2 separate regions of the Homo sapiens genome follow, and region 1 is linked to region 2. Evidence: fine-mapped expression QTL. Tissue or cell type: gastroesophageal junction. Region 2 holds a variant in brackets; the other region holds the start of a gene. All regions are shown on one strand. Distances are from middle to middle.

What was found. PIP is the estimated chance that this variant, and not a neighbour inherited with it, causes the effect.
Region 1: VAC14 starts here. The variant in region 2 is fine-mapped to the expression of VAC14 in gastroesophageal junction (GTEx, PIP 0.99).

What each region holds. Positions count from the first base shown.
Region 1 is chr16:70,796,924-70,804,923 of GRCh38, reverse strand. VAC14 (VAC14 component of PIKFYVE complex) reads left to right here and starts at 3,766. Exons shown (of 19, transcript NM_018052.5): 1 at 3,766-4,127. The coding sequence starts at 4,024. HYDIN (HYDIN axonemal central pair apparatus protein) reads left to right here. Exons shown (of 86, transcript NM_001270974.2): 86 at 1-2,840. RefSeq lists enhancers at 3,731-3,790, 3,458-4,080 and a silencer at 3,871-4,060.
Region 2 is chr16:70,657,163-70,665,420 of GRCh38, reverse strand. IL34 (interleukin 34) reads right to left here. Exons shown (of 6, transcript NM_001393494.1): 5 at 5,668-5,803; 6 at 4,739-5,424. The coding sequence ends at 5,234. It overlaps MTSS2 (MTSS I-BAR domain containing 2), which reads left to right. Exons shown (of 15, transcript NM_138383.3): 13 at 325-501; 14 at 658-823; 15 at 972-4,217. The coding sequence ends at 1,744. Among named protein-coding and RNA genes, the nearest start is that of IL34, 15 kb to the right of the region's middle. The variant G/C (reference allele first, on the strand shown) is at 4,880.

The sequences.
Region 1 (8,000 bases), 140 kb before region 2:
CTTGGGGTGGCTAGGGGCAACTCCCCCAACTTCAGACCTGTTCCAGTGCTTCCCCAAGCCACTGAAGCTGTCCATATACATTTTATAAAAGTGATCAGGGAGAAGGGAGGGGGAGAAACAAAAACGAACCCAGGTTGCAGCACACTCAGCATTAATCACTAGATCAGCCTGCGCTCAGACCTGCTTCCTCATAGCTGTTTGGTGCCTGCTGTTTCAGAATCACGTAGACCCTGCTAAAGATCATAGTTCCCCTCAATGCTCTGGAGATAACAACTTGAACATTAGGAAACGTTAAGTTTTCCGTTTGAGATATTTATTCTTGGTCCTGTGTACCAGTGAAACAACTGACATCAGCTGATCTGAAGGACCTCACGAGAAGCTGATTCACCAAAGAATGCGGTTTCCACATCCTGATGATTTCATCCGTCTTACCCAACCAATCAGTCACCTGGTTTTTCAGCCCTTCACCCTCCAGGATCCCCTTAAAAACCCCAGTCCAGAACTCTTCCGGGAGATGGATTTGAGGGTCTCCTCCCATCTCATCACTCAGTGACCTTTGATCATCACTTTCTCTGCTGCATCCCCACTGTCTCTGTGCATTGGTCTGTTACTGCACAGTGGGCACACAAACGTGTTGGTCCTATAACACCACTGAGTCTAGGGTCCAAATCCTCCTAGCCCCTGAGAGAGGAGGAAGTTCCTTCTCCCTGGGACCAAGAGCCAAGCTCAGATCCTGCCCCAGTGTGAACCCTCTTCCAGGCTGGTTTGAGATTGGGTGCATTTCTTCCCTTTAGGTTTTTCTCGTGCTTCCTTAGCCTCAAACAATAACAAAATAGTCTTATATTAGCAAATTTGGAATGGCAAAGTAGCTTAACAGCAGGCTTGATGAAAATAACCCTTCCAACACATGCTTGTGGAAGTTACATTGGAGAATCCATTCTCAGCAAAGCAGACCAGGAGACTTCTAACTGGGGGATGTTCAGAAAATGTCAGGGTAGCTGTGTGGCAGAACTCCAAGGAGCACTGTGCACAGAATACCATGGGAATGGGGCTCCCTGGCCTCGTTCCACACTGGGCCCCCAGTGAGTGTGGCATGCTAAGTCTAACCACTTCTTTAGGAGCCTCAAGTCAGAGGTGACAATACTGTAACATTGGTGAGGGCCTGCTACATTTCAAGACCTCTACCTAATACCTTAAACCCTGTTGCCCTGAAACTCCAGCTACAATTACATTGCTGTTGGAGAAACTGCTTTGCACAGTTCAAGATTTTGGTACAATTTCTTACAATGTCATCAGCAGCCTCTTGCTACAAGTTATGTCATAACTTTTACATACTTGTAATAGCTATTATGAATAGTTGTTACAGAACTATTACAAGTTCTAGCATAACAACCAAGCATCACACAGATGCAGATGAATTGTAACTGTGAAATAATGACTAGTATGCAGTCAGGCACATCAGTTATCCCCTAGTCTAGAAGAGTTTCAACAGGAATGGTCACAGGTCAGAGAAGAGGAACAAGGGTGGAAGGCAAGGGTAGCCTTTGGGCTTTATTTTTACCACCACTGCTAGCTCAATTATGCATAAATAATCTTACCTAGTTGGCATTTTTCAAGATATTAGAGAAAAGAACCACTTCTTTCTAGGAACTTCTGACCTAAAGGTAGGCATTGGTCTGGGCCTTGAATAAAAAACTGGTTACTTAGCAACCTGAGCCAGAATATAATTTCAGGAGAAAAGAATACTTCTGGTAAAAAAAAAATTCCTTATTGTTTGAATTATTAAAAACTGTATCATTACCCTTGGGAAATTCAGTTCACCTCTAAGAAAAAGCCAAACCAAAAAGCAAAAGAAACATGAAATATATTAGATATGCGTCCCGTGGAAATGCACACACATTGGAGAAATAGAACCAAATCATTCCCATTGATTTACATTTTTTCAGTGTTTTTCATCAACCATCATCAAAATCCTAAAACCAAACTTTGCAAGACATTTGGAGATGTCCTTGGCAGCACTACTACTACTTGTTAGCGCACCTACCTTCATTCATAGGATTGTGTCAGCAAAGGTTTTAACAACTATGAAAACCCCACCTGTATAGGAGAATACATTTTTTATGGATTTTTCTAGACATGATATATCCATGACTTGCCGAGTTTTGGATTAGCCTTTGTATTCATTTTCTATGGCTGCATAACAAATTACCACAAAACTAGGAGAGCAAAACAACACAAATTTATTATCTCACAGTTTCCATGGGTTGAGAGCCCAGTGTGAACTGGATTCTCAGCTCAGGGTTCCACAAGGCTGAAATCAAGGTGCTGGCCAGCTGCATCCTCATCAGGAGGCTCAACTAGGGAAAGATCTGCTTCCAAGGACCCTCAATGTGTTGGCAAAATTCATTCCTTTGTGGCCATATGACTAAACTCCTTACAGGAGAGTCTCTCTTCCAGTTCAAATTTCTTCTAATCTCTTTTAAGTACTCACTTGATTCGGTCAGGCCGACTCAAGTTAATCTCTCTTTTTATTAATTCAATGTCTGCTGATTAGGGACCTTAATTACATCTGCAAAATCTCTTCTGCGATATTACATAATATAATCATGTGAGTGATGCATAGCCCATCATATTTACAAGTCTTGTTCACGCTGAAAGAGGGCATAATACAGGGCATGAACACGAAGGGGTGGGAATATTGGAGGTCATCCTAGAATTCTGCCTACTTTTGCCCTTTACTCATTGCGTCCCTGTTTCTGTTGAGGAAAATACTCCATTTTCAAGACTGTTATAAGGCCTATATATGCACTTTTCATTCATTAAAGAAAAGTATCACCATGCATTCTGAAACTGTTATTCTTTGAGCTCCACTGTAATCTAGCCCTTGTCCTAAGTCCCTGTTCACTCTGAAAGCTTATGATAGGAAAGGCTGATGCACCTCCCTGTTAACTGCATGTTTACCACACTCCGGCCATAAATTGCTTTTAAATATTTTGCCACATAGTTGGGATTTCTGTCTCACCATGTAATGTGATTCCCGAAGCAGCTGAAGGGGCTGCTTTCCAGGGGACCTATCTAGAGACCCGCACTCAGCAGATCTGGGGCCTTTCTCTCTGTCTGTAACCAGCCCTCCTAGGCATCAGAGCATGTTAAACACACCCCCAAATGGTGGAGTGACAGACACTGGTGGTACCTGAGATCTTAGGTGGTAGACAGGTAGTGCCATTTTTAATTGAGAATTTATTTTGATGTGTCTTAGAAAAAATATACCTATTCAAACTCATGGTTTTAGGGCATAAGCAAAGCTAAAAGAGATTTAAGGTATTTTTTAAAGTGAGTTGATTTGAGGAAAACATTAAATAGATAATACAAGTGGCTAGAATATGGTGAAAGTGATGACAGTGTTACTGCAGTTAGGGAAACGTCTGCATCTAGGAAATTGGTAAGTGACCAACTACTGAATGAACTAGTGAATTCGGTGACTATTGAATAAATTATGTTAAGTGAATCAGACTCCAAGAACCCATTCGGTCTTACGAACGTCTACAGAAGCCCACCACGTGCCATCAGTTGGGCGTGAGCTACACACCCATTAAAGCACGTCTCAAACCACACTCCAGCTACCTGGCGCGCAGCGCGATAGTGTGTGCAGTGTGGGTGGAGCCTTCCGAGGGCGTGGCCAATCCACCTGCGGCCTGCGGTGGGGGCGTGGCTGGAGAGGGGCGGGCCCTCGCGACGGAAGGCGGAAGTGCTGTAGAGTCATGTGACTCGAGTAACATGGCCGCTGTCTCGTGAGTCCCGCTAGTGCCGGGCGGGAGTTGTTAAGCGGCCAGGGTCAGGTGTGCTGGAGCGGGGTCCGGGCCCGGGTTCCAGGGCGAGGCGGCGGAGCGTGGCAGGCAAGCCTAGAGCGGCGTGGTCCATGCGCCGGCGCCGGGGGCAGAGCGGAGCCGCAGACTCCCCTGGCCCCGGCGCGGCCCCGGCAGCCGCGGGCTAAGGAGTCGCGAGGTTCCCCCAGCTGCCACCATGAACCCCGAGAAGGATTTCGCGCCGCTCACGCCTAACATCGTGCGCGCCCTCAATGACAAGCTGTACGAAAAGCGGAAGGTGGCAGCGCTGGAGATCGAGAAGTAAGAGCCGCCAGGACCCCTCCCTGGCTATGCAGCCCCTGACTGCTCTGCTCCCCAGGGGGACTTCTCACGCCTTCCCAGCCAGGGTTACTTTCCCAGGTTTTAGGCCCTTACCTTAGCGCAGTGTTTAAGAGCAGATTGGGAGCCATATCTGGGAGTCCCTGCTTTACTCCTGACTGGCTGTGTGATTTGGTCCCAGCTTTTTAACCTCCCGGTGCCACAAAGGGCTGCAGTGAGAATGAAGTGACATCATGTATGGGTAGTGCTTTGCACAGTGCATGGCACATGGTGAGTCTTCGGTGCGGTGCCACCCAAACCAGCAAATCAGAGAGTTGTCTCTGTGGTGAGAGAGAAGTCAGAAGCCGGAGAATTTGCAGGTGATGCTGACCAGCCTGGTTTCTTACCCAGCTTCTGAGAAGTGAAGGAGATTGTTAGTGACCAAGTAGAGAAATCAGGTCGGAAAACTCGTGATCTCAAGGCTCAGAGAGTTTTTTGTTTTATCTGTGTTATAACACCCTTCCCTGCAAGTGGAAGTAGAAATAATTTGACCTTTCTTGCTTCTGCAGTCTTGTTACATGTATGTGTAACAATGATCTGATATTTTACTTTATTTCCCAATGTACAAAACAGCGAAAGTTTAACTGGGGATGTTTTATTTATTTTTTTTTCTGCAGTATTATTTTACTTTTGTGGGTTTTTTCCCAGTCACATTTTAGTGTTAAAGTCAAGTGAGTGAGTGATTTCAGAAAATTGGAAAGAAGCAGGCTGTGAAACTGGAAGAATACCAGTCTGCGAGTCAGAAAAGGTGAATTGTATTTCTGTTCTGTCCAGTAGAGTAGCCGTTGGCCGTGCGTAGCTATTATAAATTTAAATTATTAAAGATTAAACTTTAGTTTCTCAGTCACACTACCCGTATTTCAAGTGTTCAATAGCCACATGTAGCTATTGGCTGCTATATAGGGCAGCACAGATTATAGACTGTTTCCATCATTGCAGAATGCTCTATTGGACTGCTCTAATCTATTCCGTGGTGTGACATTCATTCGTTAACCTGGGGCAAATTCCTTAACTCAGGGTTTCTCAGCCTCTGCACCATTCACATTTTGGGGCAGATGATTTTTGGTTGTAGTGGGCTGTCCTGTGCCTTGCAGGATTTTTAACAGCGTCTCTGACCTCTTCCCACTGGATGCCAGTAGCACTCCATCCGTTGTAACAATCAAAAATGTCTTCAGACATTGCTAAATGTCCCCTGAAGGAGCAAAATTGCCCCGGTTGACAACTGCTGCTTGCAATCCAAATCAAATGTTGCTTTGGATTTTAGTTTCCTCCTAAACTAAAGGGTTCGGACCTTGATAAGAAATCCCCCACCCTGCCTCCATTCAGCTCTCATACTCAGTATGTCCACAACCATCTAGCTGCTTCTCTCATCAGACACCACTTTCTTGACTGCTCCTTTTATATAGCTTTTTGTTTATGCCTGACTCTCACGAATGCTAGCAAGTCTTATTGCACATTGCCATACTGAATAGAGGGACCCAGAAATGATATATAGGCATGGTTCCGTGTCCATGGGGTTTTGTTGGCTTTGAAGTTGCCTTGACACCTAGTTTTGTCCCTCACCCACTCTGCTTCTCAGGAATATCCGGTTTTATTGTAGCTTGAGTCGTCTGTTGAGTCCTTGAAGAGAGAGGTATTCATCTCAACATTATTGTTGCTTCCAGCGCAACCTGTGTATCTGTTCTCACTCTGCACACAGTTCTGTAAGGGTTTTGTCTTTGATCGAGTTCATTTTGTATTGGACATTGCCCTTGATTTGTGGAATTTAGAGAAACTCAGCAGTGCCTTGACTGTGAACTCCTTAAGAGCAGAGAGTTCTGTTTATGTATCTGTTTTATTTATCCTTAGCACTTAGCCTGGCAGCACTTGACAGCTGGTGTCCGAATAAATGAATGACCGTACATTTTCGGTGGGGAAATAACATTGCAGGCTCAGGACCTTGCTGCCCAAAAGCGTGGCCTACAGACAGCAGCATCAGGATCACCTGGGAGCTTGTTAGAGGCTCTGCAGCTTTGCTCCAGACCTATGGAATCAGAATCTGCATTTTAACAAGATCCCTGGGTGATTTGTGTGCACATTAAAGTTTGAGAAGCACTGGCCTCAAAGACCCTCTCATCTGTTTCCAACCTTCTCCAGTCATGCTTAGAATGAAGAATGGCTGGTTAGTTCAATGCCTTCCTCAGAACATATGCTTCACAAATTGCTTAGAGATAGATACTGACTTACTTATCTGTGCTTCACCAGCACCAGCATTTTGCTTGTCTGAGCACTTTCTATGTGTCAGGTACACATAGGATATTGTATGTTTTAATATATTCTTCATTTGGCCTGGTCAAAGTGACCCTCAGCAAACACAGACTATTAATTAATCTCTCATTAATCAGACTGCAGATGCCCAACAAAAGAAGAGTCCGAATATTGGCAGTTATCTATGTAGTGTAAATGAGTCAGTTCATGTGCTCCCTAAATGAAAGTGCTTAGTCCTGTTCTTAGGTAAGTTGCCCCTTTAAGATACCCTATTTCCTGAGAGGCTGCGTGGCATGGTGTTTAAGAGCAGGCTCTGGAACTGGGGTTCAAGCTCCCATTTACTGGCTAGGTGACCCTGAGCAAGCTAATTAACCTCTGTGCCTCAATTTCTTCATCTGTAAAAAGAGCATAATAATAATATGCATAGAGTTGTTTGAGCTAATGTTGTAAAGTGCTGTGTTAGTCTGTTCTTGCTCTGCTATAAACAAATACCTGAGACTGGGTAATTTATAAAGAAAAGAGATTTATTTGGCTCACGGTTCTGCAAGCTGTACAGAAAGCATAGCGGCTTCTGCTTCTGGCGGGGCCTCAGGATGCTTCCAATCATGATGGAGGGCAAAGAGGGAGCAAGGCGTCCCACATGGCGGGAGCAGGAGCAAAAGAGAGTGAGCAGGGAGGTGCTGCACACTTTCAAACAACCAGATCTCTTGAGAACTCACTATCACAAGAACAGCACCAAGAAGATGGTGCTAGGCCATTCATCATCATGGGAGAAATCCACCCCCATGATCCAGCCACCTCCACCAGGCCCCATCTCCAACACTGGGAACTACAGTTGAACAAGAGATTTGGTGGGGACACAGATCCAAACCATATCAAGTATTTAGTGTAGTAGTGGGCACATTGTAATTGTTACAAACTGTATACATAGAGAGAGAATTGTTATGTAATTGCCCTAATTATTTCTAACATACGTATATCACATAGTTGTCATCTGTCAGTACTGCTGTTACCACTTTTTGGTAGGGAGAATGATAGCCTCCTATATTTGCCCCATGCTAATCCCTGGAGCCTGTGAATATGTTATGTTACACAGCAAGGGGGAATTAAGGTTGCTAATCACTAACCTTAAAAATAGAGAGATTATCCTGTATTATCGAGGTGGGCCCAATGTAACCCTAACCAGAAGAGTCAGTGTCAGAGTGATGTGATGTAAGAAAACTTACCCGGATCATCACTGGCTTTGAAGATGGAAGGGAACCACCAGCCAAGGAATGCTGGCAGCCTCTAGAAGCTGGCAAGAAAATGGATTTTCCCCTAGAGCATCACAAAATAACATAGCCTGCCAACATCTTGATTTTAGCTCAGTAAGACCCATAGTAACAAATGCGTTGTTCTTGAATTTTTTTAATTTTTTAATTTATTTTATAGAGATGGGGGTCTCACTATGTTGCCCAGGCTGGTCTTGAACTCCTAGGCTGAAACAATCCTCCCACTGCAGCCTCCCAAAGTGCTGGGATTACAGGCAAGAGCCACTGCCCCAGCCTGGTGTCTCCTTTTATGAGGACA
Region 2 (8,258 bases):
CCCATCCATGCCCTCCCCACCTGGTGCCATTACTGCACAAAGGGCCTGGGTTCAGCCAGGGGTGCGTGCACACAGCACCTGTCCCCAAGAGACAAGCCACCTGGCCATTTCCTACAGTCACTGCCCACACAGCCACATCTTACCCCTGGGCCTGGTGGGACTGAGGGGCCACAGTCACACTCCATGCTCTGCCCTTGGCTGTGATTGCGAACCAGAGACCCCCTGATAGCCCTGGACACCCTGAGCCTCAGCCACAGTGACGGGCCCCCGGGCCATAGGTGGTAGGGCCAGTGGTCCCCCTGACCTGCCACACCCTCCCTGCAGGACTGGTCCAAGGTCGGCTCCCATGAGCAGCCCTCAGGCGCCACTCTGCAGCGGAGGAAGGACCGAGTGGAGCTCCTGCGAGACACAGAGCCAGGCCCTGCCAGTGGGGGCACCCTGGGCCCCAGCGGGGAAGAGGCACCGCGACCCCGGATGTCCCCTGCCACCATCGCAGCCAAGGTAGGCTGGCCAGGGCCCCCCTTCACGCCCAGGTCAGTCCCAGGAGGCCCAGCCAGTGGCCTCAGGGCCGGCTCCAACCACCTGGCAGGGCTGCCTGGAATTTGGGCAGAGGGGATTGGGGGCGCAAGGCTTCAGCCTGCACTTTCCCACCCTCAGCACGGTGAGGAGGTGTCCCCCGCCGCCAGTGACCTGGCCATGGTGCTGACGCGGGGCCTGAGCCTGGAGCACCAGAAGAGCAGCCGGGACTCGCTGCAGTACTCCAGCGGCTACAGCACGCAGACCACCACGCCCTCCTGCTCTGAGGACACCATCCCCTCCCAAGGCAGGCCCGCGGGGCTGGGGTGGGACCAGGGACAGCTGGGACTTAGCCATCCAGGAGGGCCCCGTCCTTCCCCCTCTGTGCTCACCCTGGTGGGCTGGGGGCAAGGGGCCACCTGGGCCCTGGGCCTCACTGTGTCCCGTGCCCCCAGGCTCCGACTACGACTGCTACTCCGTGAATGGGGATGCGGACAGCGAGGGCCCGCCCGAGTTTGACAAGTCATCCACCATCCCGCGCAACAGCAACATCGCCCAGAACTACCGCCGCCTGATCCAGACCAAGCGCCCAGCCTCCACTGCTGGGCTGCCCACCGCGGGGCTGCCCACGGCCACTGGCCTGCCCTCGGGCGCACCCCCCGGCGTGGCCACCATCCGCCGCACACCCTCCACCAAGCCCACCGTGCGCCGCGCCCTGTCCAGCGCTGGCCCCATCCCCATCCGGCCGCCCATCGTCCCTGTGAAGACGCCCACGGTGCCTGACTCCCCCGGCTACATGGGGCCCACACGGGCGGGCAGTGAGGAGTGCGTCTTCTATACCGACGAGACCGCCTCACCCCTGGCACCGGACCTCGCCAAGGCCTCCCCAAAGAGGCTCAGCCTGCCCAACACAGCCTGGGGCAGCCCATCCCCAGAGGCAGCCGGGTACCCCGGGGCAGGGGCCGAGGACGAGCAGCAGCAGCTGGCGGCCAACCGGCACAGCCTGGTGGAGAAGCTGGGGGAGCTGGTGGCGGGTGCCCACGCACTGGGTGAGGGCCAGTTCCCCTTCCCCACTGCTCTGTCGGCCACCCCCACGGAGGAGACGCCCACCCCACCCCCAGCCGCCACCAGCGACCCCCCGGCCGAAGACATGCTGGTGGCCATCCGGCGTGGGGTCCGGCTCCGCAGGACCGTCACCAACGACAGGTCGGCGCCCCGCATCTTATGATGGCGCCACCCTCCCCATCCTCTCAGGCCCCAGTGCGAGCAGGTGGCCTGGTCTGTGAGCCGCAGGCACTCAGAGCAAAGGCCCAGCCAGGAGAGAGGACAGAGCCAGGGCAGAGGCCATGCCACTTTATGGAAAGACACCTCACTTGGATTCCAGCATTTAAACAGGAAGTGACTTCTTAGCAAGCCTGGCCAGGACGGAGCCTGCAGGCCTGGGCCTGGTTCGGGGTCTGTTTTATGCTCTTCGGTCCCTCCTCTTCCTCCTCTGGGGCCCTGCCTCTTCCCTACCCATAAGCACCAGAGCCAGGGCCGCTGCCCATGACAGAGGGGCCAGGCTGGCCTCCCTTTCACCATCCCGGCCTCTCCCAGGGCTGGTCCTGCCTCAGCTCCTCCTGGAATGCTGGCCCCCCTCTCCCCTGCCTGAGCCCCCTCCTCCCCTCTTGCCTTCTCTCTGCCTCTCCCAGGCCCCTCTCCCTCCAGGAGGCGGGGCGGCTGTGGAGGGGCCAGGTGCACGCTGGGCTGGATGTCTGCTGGGGGCTGGGGGCCAGGGCGGCAGGTTGGAGTTGGGCGGCCAGGCCCCCCGTGTGGGAAGGGAGTTCCAGGGCCCACGCCAAGTCTCAGGGAGGAAACCAGGGGCTGCTTGGGGGGGGGGGTCTTGGGGGCCCTGTGGTGGCTCCCACCCCTCGCCTCCCCCACCCCGTGAGGCTGGCTGGAGGGGGCCAGAGCAGCTCTTTGGAAACTAGGGCAGCAGGGTTAGGAGGCCGGAGGCCCTGGGGTCACCGGCCAGCCACACAGGCACCGTTTTCAGATGTCCACTTCTCATTGGGTACATCAATCTTTTAACTTTGGGGGTCACAGTTTTAGCCACCTTTCGGGGGGTGACTGGAGCAGTAGGAGGTGTGGGGTCATTTTATGAATATAATAAAATGGAGCTGACTGTGGACGAGGACTAAGTGTGGGGGAGAGGGGACGATACAGGGTGTGTGTCTGGGAGTGCCTGGGGGACAGGGACCCCCCGGTGGTCCTATGGCAGGATGAGAAGGGAGGGACTTGGCTCCCCCAGAGCCCGGTGGAAGCTACTGTTCTCTCCAGTGTCTCGAGCGTAGCCAAAATAAGGTTGGGAGGCTCCCGGCCTGTCTGCTGTGGTCTGAGCTGGCTGCAAGCCCAGGTGGGGGAGCGAGTCTGGGAAGATTGGCTTTGACTCTCTGTTGCCGGAGGAGATGCCATCCCAGCACGGCCCCCACTGTAGTCCAGGCTCGTGGTGGCAGCGGGGGCAAGGGGAGGGGCAAGGCTGCCCCCACCCCACGCACCAAGTCACGCCAAGTCTCAGCAGGTAAAAGCACGTGAGCCTAGGGCGAGCGGAGGGAGTCCTGGTGGCCCCGCAGGTCAGGAGGGAAAGCAGGGCTCAGAGGGCATCGTGGCCCCAGGGCAGGGTCCTACCTGGGGGTCAGGAGCACCTTGGTCTTGATGATTGATTGATTGATTGATAGAATGGAGCTGGGTCTGAGCCTCCCAGGCTTGAGCTCCTGGGAGTTCTTGTGCGGTGAGCTGGGCAGCTCCTGGGTAGGTCCGGGCACCAAGCAGGCCCTGATGTGGACAGAGTCCCATCAGAGGGAGCTGATGAAGAATGGTCCCTGTAAGTAAGTCACTAGGTTCAACAACTGCCTGGCCGAGCACTCAGCCCGTGGAGCTCAGGCCAACACCAGAGCCCCGGTTTTAGGGGCCAGGAGAGCAGGTGACCAATTATTTGGGGAGTCTTGGGTAGAATTTCCGCCACACATTCTCCCCAGGGCTGCAGGGGTCTTCCGAGGCAGGGCGGTGGAGCAGGATTCAGGATGTGGTGGGAATAGAGTGAGGGGCAGTGGGTGGGCAGACCTGGGCGTCAGAGGTCCTGATGGGAAAGGAGGCAGGGGCTACCCAGAGAGGGGGGCTCGTGTGGCACAGCCCCCACCGACTCCGCCGTCCCCCTCCCCTGTGAGCCCCGGGGGCTGTACATACTCTACTCCATCCCCTTGTCCATCCCTGAGACCACCCCCGCCGCCCTTGCGTCGACTTAGCAACCACCTCATAGGCCCACCCACCTCGGGATCCGAGCCAACCATCCCACATCACAAACTTTGGTTTGGGGGACTTTACGTTCGTTTAATTTCTCATTTTGTACGGAGAAATATTCTTTTCAAAAGCGTCTTTTGACTGAAGTAACTTTCCTGGTGCTGTTGTTAACTCGTTCCTTTTTTTAATTTATTCCCCCACCCCAGGCAGCCCTCCTGGTTCCTACTCACCCTCCCCCCCTCCCCCACCCTCCGTCCCATCTGAACCATTTGTTTCTTTTCTTTCCGTCAGATTTTGGAAAAATTCTCCTCTCCTCCCCGCCCCCTCCACACCATCCTCCCCGATTTAAATATAGTCACTGCTACAAGTAACAGATGCACTGTGAAGATTCCAGTATTAATAAAGGTGTACTGTAATTAACACCCCTGCCTCTGCCTGGCTGCTTCCTACCCCATCCCCACACCTCACCTTTCCCACCCCAGATCCCAGCTGCAGGGGGACAGGCTGGGGGTTCCCAGAGGATCTCAGATCTCAATGTAGGTGCCAGGGCCAGACCTGGGTCTCTGAAATGTCCCATATGTGTCCCTGCTAGGGGCTGCCTGGGGGCAGCCAGATGGAGGGAGGGAGGGAGAGAGGGAGGGAGGGAGAGAGGGAGGGAGGGAGGGAGGATGGCAAGGGTCAAAGCCAAGGTATCAGCCCAACACCGCCTCCCCCAACCCAGGCTTGCAGAGGCCCCTGGGCTGGGCTGGGCTGGGCTGGGCTGGGCTGGGCTGGGCTGGGCTGGGCCGGAACTCCATCCCTGGCATCCCTCTCATTCCACATCCCTTGGGCAGGCTCCATCCACTCCAAATCCGCATCCTCAGCCCTGCCCCCCTCCACTTCCTGCACTTGGCCACCTCCCATCCCCGCCAGGTTCACCCCTGAAGATGCAAAGCAAAGCAAACCAAAGGAAGTGGGGTGTTTAATAGAAAAAAGAAACTGGAAGAGCATCCACTATGGCAAGATGTGGCACTTGGCACCGCCCTCTGCCCCCAGCTCCCCAGTCTGCCAGGCTGGGGGGTCATAGAATGGCCACGCCGTGCTG[G/C]CTGTCTCCCCTGCAACCCACAGCTGTGCCCTCACTGCTGCGGGCCACAGGAGGCTCAGTACCCCCTTTAGGCGGGGGGACAGTGAGGGCAGCACCAGGAGAAGCCAGGAGCTGTGTCCCCATCCACCTTCAGGTCCCCAGGTCCCCTCCGCTCCAGGTGAGGCCATGACAGCTATGGAAGGCAGGAAGCTGAGCCCTGCTGTGGCACAGAATCCCCCTCAAAGGAAAAACACCCTTCCCAGGGGTCCTCTCCCAAGGGGGGCTCCCACCACCACCCCTTGAAGTCTCAGACCCAGTTGAACTCCTGTGGGAGCTGGTCTGGCTGCCCCTATCCGCAGTCACCATCCAGGGTGCTCAGGGCAAGAGGCCCTCGCCCTGTGCCCTGACCGGCCTCACCGAGCCCGTGGAGTGAGGCGGGGAGCTGGGGGACCACGGGGGCGGAGGGTACAGCTGGGTGGCCGCATACTGCAATGAGGGCTCTGGGCTGCAAGACTGAGGACTTGGCACCTCACAGTCCTGCCAGTTTAGGACGGAGCTTTGTTTACCTGCAAGAGATAGGGGAAAAAAAAAAAGACTGCAGCAGTGTTCAAGACCACCCTCCCCACTAAGCCAAGCCGCATGTGCTTGTCCCCCACTCTACCCAGGGCCCATCCTGGCTTCCAGAAATGGCTTGTAGCCCCGGGGAGCAGAGGATATGCCCGGGAGGACGCCAGCTCTGCCAGCTGGCCTGGGTGGGCCCAGATGCCTGGCCTCCCACCCCCAGGCGCCATCCCCTGAGAGCTCCTTACAGCAGGAGCAGTACAGCAGCTCCATGACCCGGAAGCAGTTGTCCAGCAGGGCTTTGGGCCGCACCAGCTTCAGGTTTGGCCCTGGGGCATTCAAGAGGGACAACACGGATTCCACCTTGGGGCTGACCTCCACATCCTGGAAAGGAGGAAACAGTCAGGAGCGGTGGCGAGATGGGGCCGCACCCCAGGAGAGCCGTGAGGGCTGTCCAGTCACCTGGAGCTGCCCAAACCCCGGAAGAAGGACCAGACTTCCTGTGACCATGAGCCTGGATAGCTATTTCTCACCATCTTCTTCCTGTGGGCATGGGGAGGGTCCCAGATGCCACCACTCACCCATGTACAACTCAGAGGCTTCGCTTTTCCATCCTTGAAAAATGAGTAAAGGGCGTAGACCAGGACAGTGAGGAAAGTGGGGCAAACTGCACCCAGGCACGGCCACCCACCACTGCGTGAGGACCCCCTGACCTGGGGAAAACTGTCCCTCAAGAAGCAGACATCTCCATCAACTCCAAGGAACAAGAGAAGGTCCTCACAGAGACACTGAGGCTTAAGTCACATACACAGGGCAGGGTGTCCAGCTTCAAGCTGGGGTGCTTTCTCTCCACGATATGCAACAACAGGGTCATGTGGGGTGCACCGTGGCACCAAGGGAATCAAGTCCCTGAACAGGAGGTCAGGGCCACTGTAGAAAGCATCATGGGAAACGTGGGGGGTGATCTTCTGGAAGGGGGTGACAACAAGGCAACATGTCCTGGGCCAAATTGTCCCTCTCCTCCCCCAAAAAGCTGTCTTGGTCCTACCCCTTGGTACCCGTGAATGTGACCCTATTTGGAAATAGGTTCTTTGCAGAGGTAATTAAGTTCAGGATCTTAGAAGGACATCATCCTGGATTTCAGGTAGGCCCTAAATCCAATGCCTGATGTCCTTGTAAGAGAAAGGTGACAGACATGGAAACAGGGCAGAAGGCCATGAAAAGACTGAGACGGCCAGGAATGGTGGTTCAACCTGTAATCCCAGCACTTTGGGAGGCTGAGGGAGGCATATCACTTGAGGCCAGGAGTTCAAGACCAGCCTAACCAACATGGCAGAACCCCGTCTCTACTAAAAATACAGGTGTGGTGGCAGGCATCTATAATCCCAGCTACTTGGGAGGCTGAGGCAGGAGAATTGCTTGAACCTGGGAGACGGAGGTTGCAGTGAGCCAAGATTGCCCCACTGCAATGCACCTGGGCGACACAGTGAGACTCCGCCTCAAAAAAACAAAAAAAGCCACCACAGAGGCCAGGCAGGATGTAATCCCAGTCCTGTAATCCCAGGACTTTGGGAGGCTGAGGCAGAAAGATCACTTGAGGCCAGGGGTTCAAGACCAGCCTGGGCAACATAGCGAGACCCCCATCTCTAAAACAATAAAAAAGAAATAAAATGAAATAAACAGGAAAAAGAGCCACCAAGCAGATCAAGGAGTCTCCTGACTTTGTAGGAATTGACAGCCTCCCCACCAGTCTGGTTCCAGGAAAGCTCCAGGCAGCTGCAAAACAGGTGCTAGTCCCTAAGCCCTTTCACCGTCGGAAGCTCACAGTTGGCCTGGGATGTTCTCCCGACAAGCTGGGCCTTGTCAGCAGCTGGCTGGGCAGGGCAGCAGGTGGATCCCAGGGACAGGTGTGCACCAGAGTCCTGAGGAGGTCTGGTGGAGACGGGGAGAGGTCCCACCGCACACACGGCCTGCATGGGTCATCTCGCCACCTTCCTTTTTTACTACAACTCAGGCATTTTAGAGGATAATATCCCTGAGGCCTCAGATCAATTTCTCTGAGCGGGTCAGGGATGGGGGACCTCTTTTTTTAATTAACTAAAGTCCATAATTTACATTAGGGCTCACACTCTCTGTTGTACAGTTCTGTGGGTTGTGACAAATGCATGATGTCATGTATACAACATGAATGCATTATACAGCATAGTTTTTTGTTTTTTGTTTTGAGATGGAGTTTTTCGTTCTTGTTGCCCAAGCTGGAGTGCAATGGTGCAATCTCAGCTCACTGCAACCTCTGCCTCCCAGGTTCAAGCGATTCTCCTGCCTCAGCCTCCTGAGTAGCTGGGATAACAGGTGCCCACCACCAGGACTGGCTTATTTTTGTATTTTTAGTAGAGACGGGGTTTCACCATTTGGCCAGGCTGGTCTCAAACTCCTGACCTCGGCCTCCCAAAGTGCTGGGATTACAGGCATGAGCCGCCGCGCCCGGCCTGCAGCATGTTTTACTGCCCTAAACATTCCCTGTGCTCCATCCATTCTTCCCCTCTCCCCCTACCCCACCTCCAGGACCCTCGTGTTGCAGAAACAAAGAGGGTACGATGACTTGCCCAGGATCCAGAGGGAGAGAGGCAGAGCCTAGAACAGAGTCTCAGAGGCATCGCCTGCACCCCGAGCCCGGCTCTCATGACCACCACGGCTGCCTCTTCCTTCCACAGGCCTCTTTTCCTGCACCCCTCCCCCACTTCTCCCACGTCCCTCTGCTTGTGCCCATCTTTCCGTGTATTCACCCTTTCCCTCACTAGCCTTTGGCCACACCTCACACACATGTACACACGTGTGC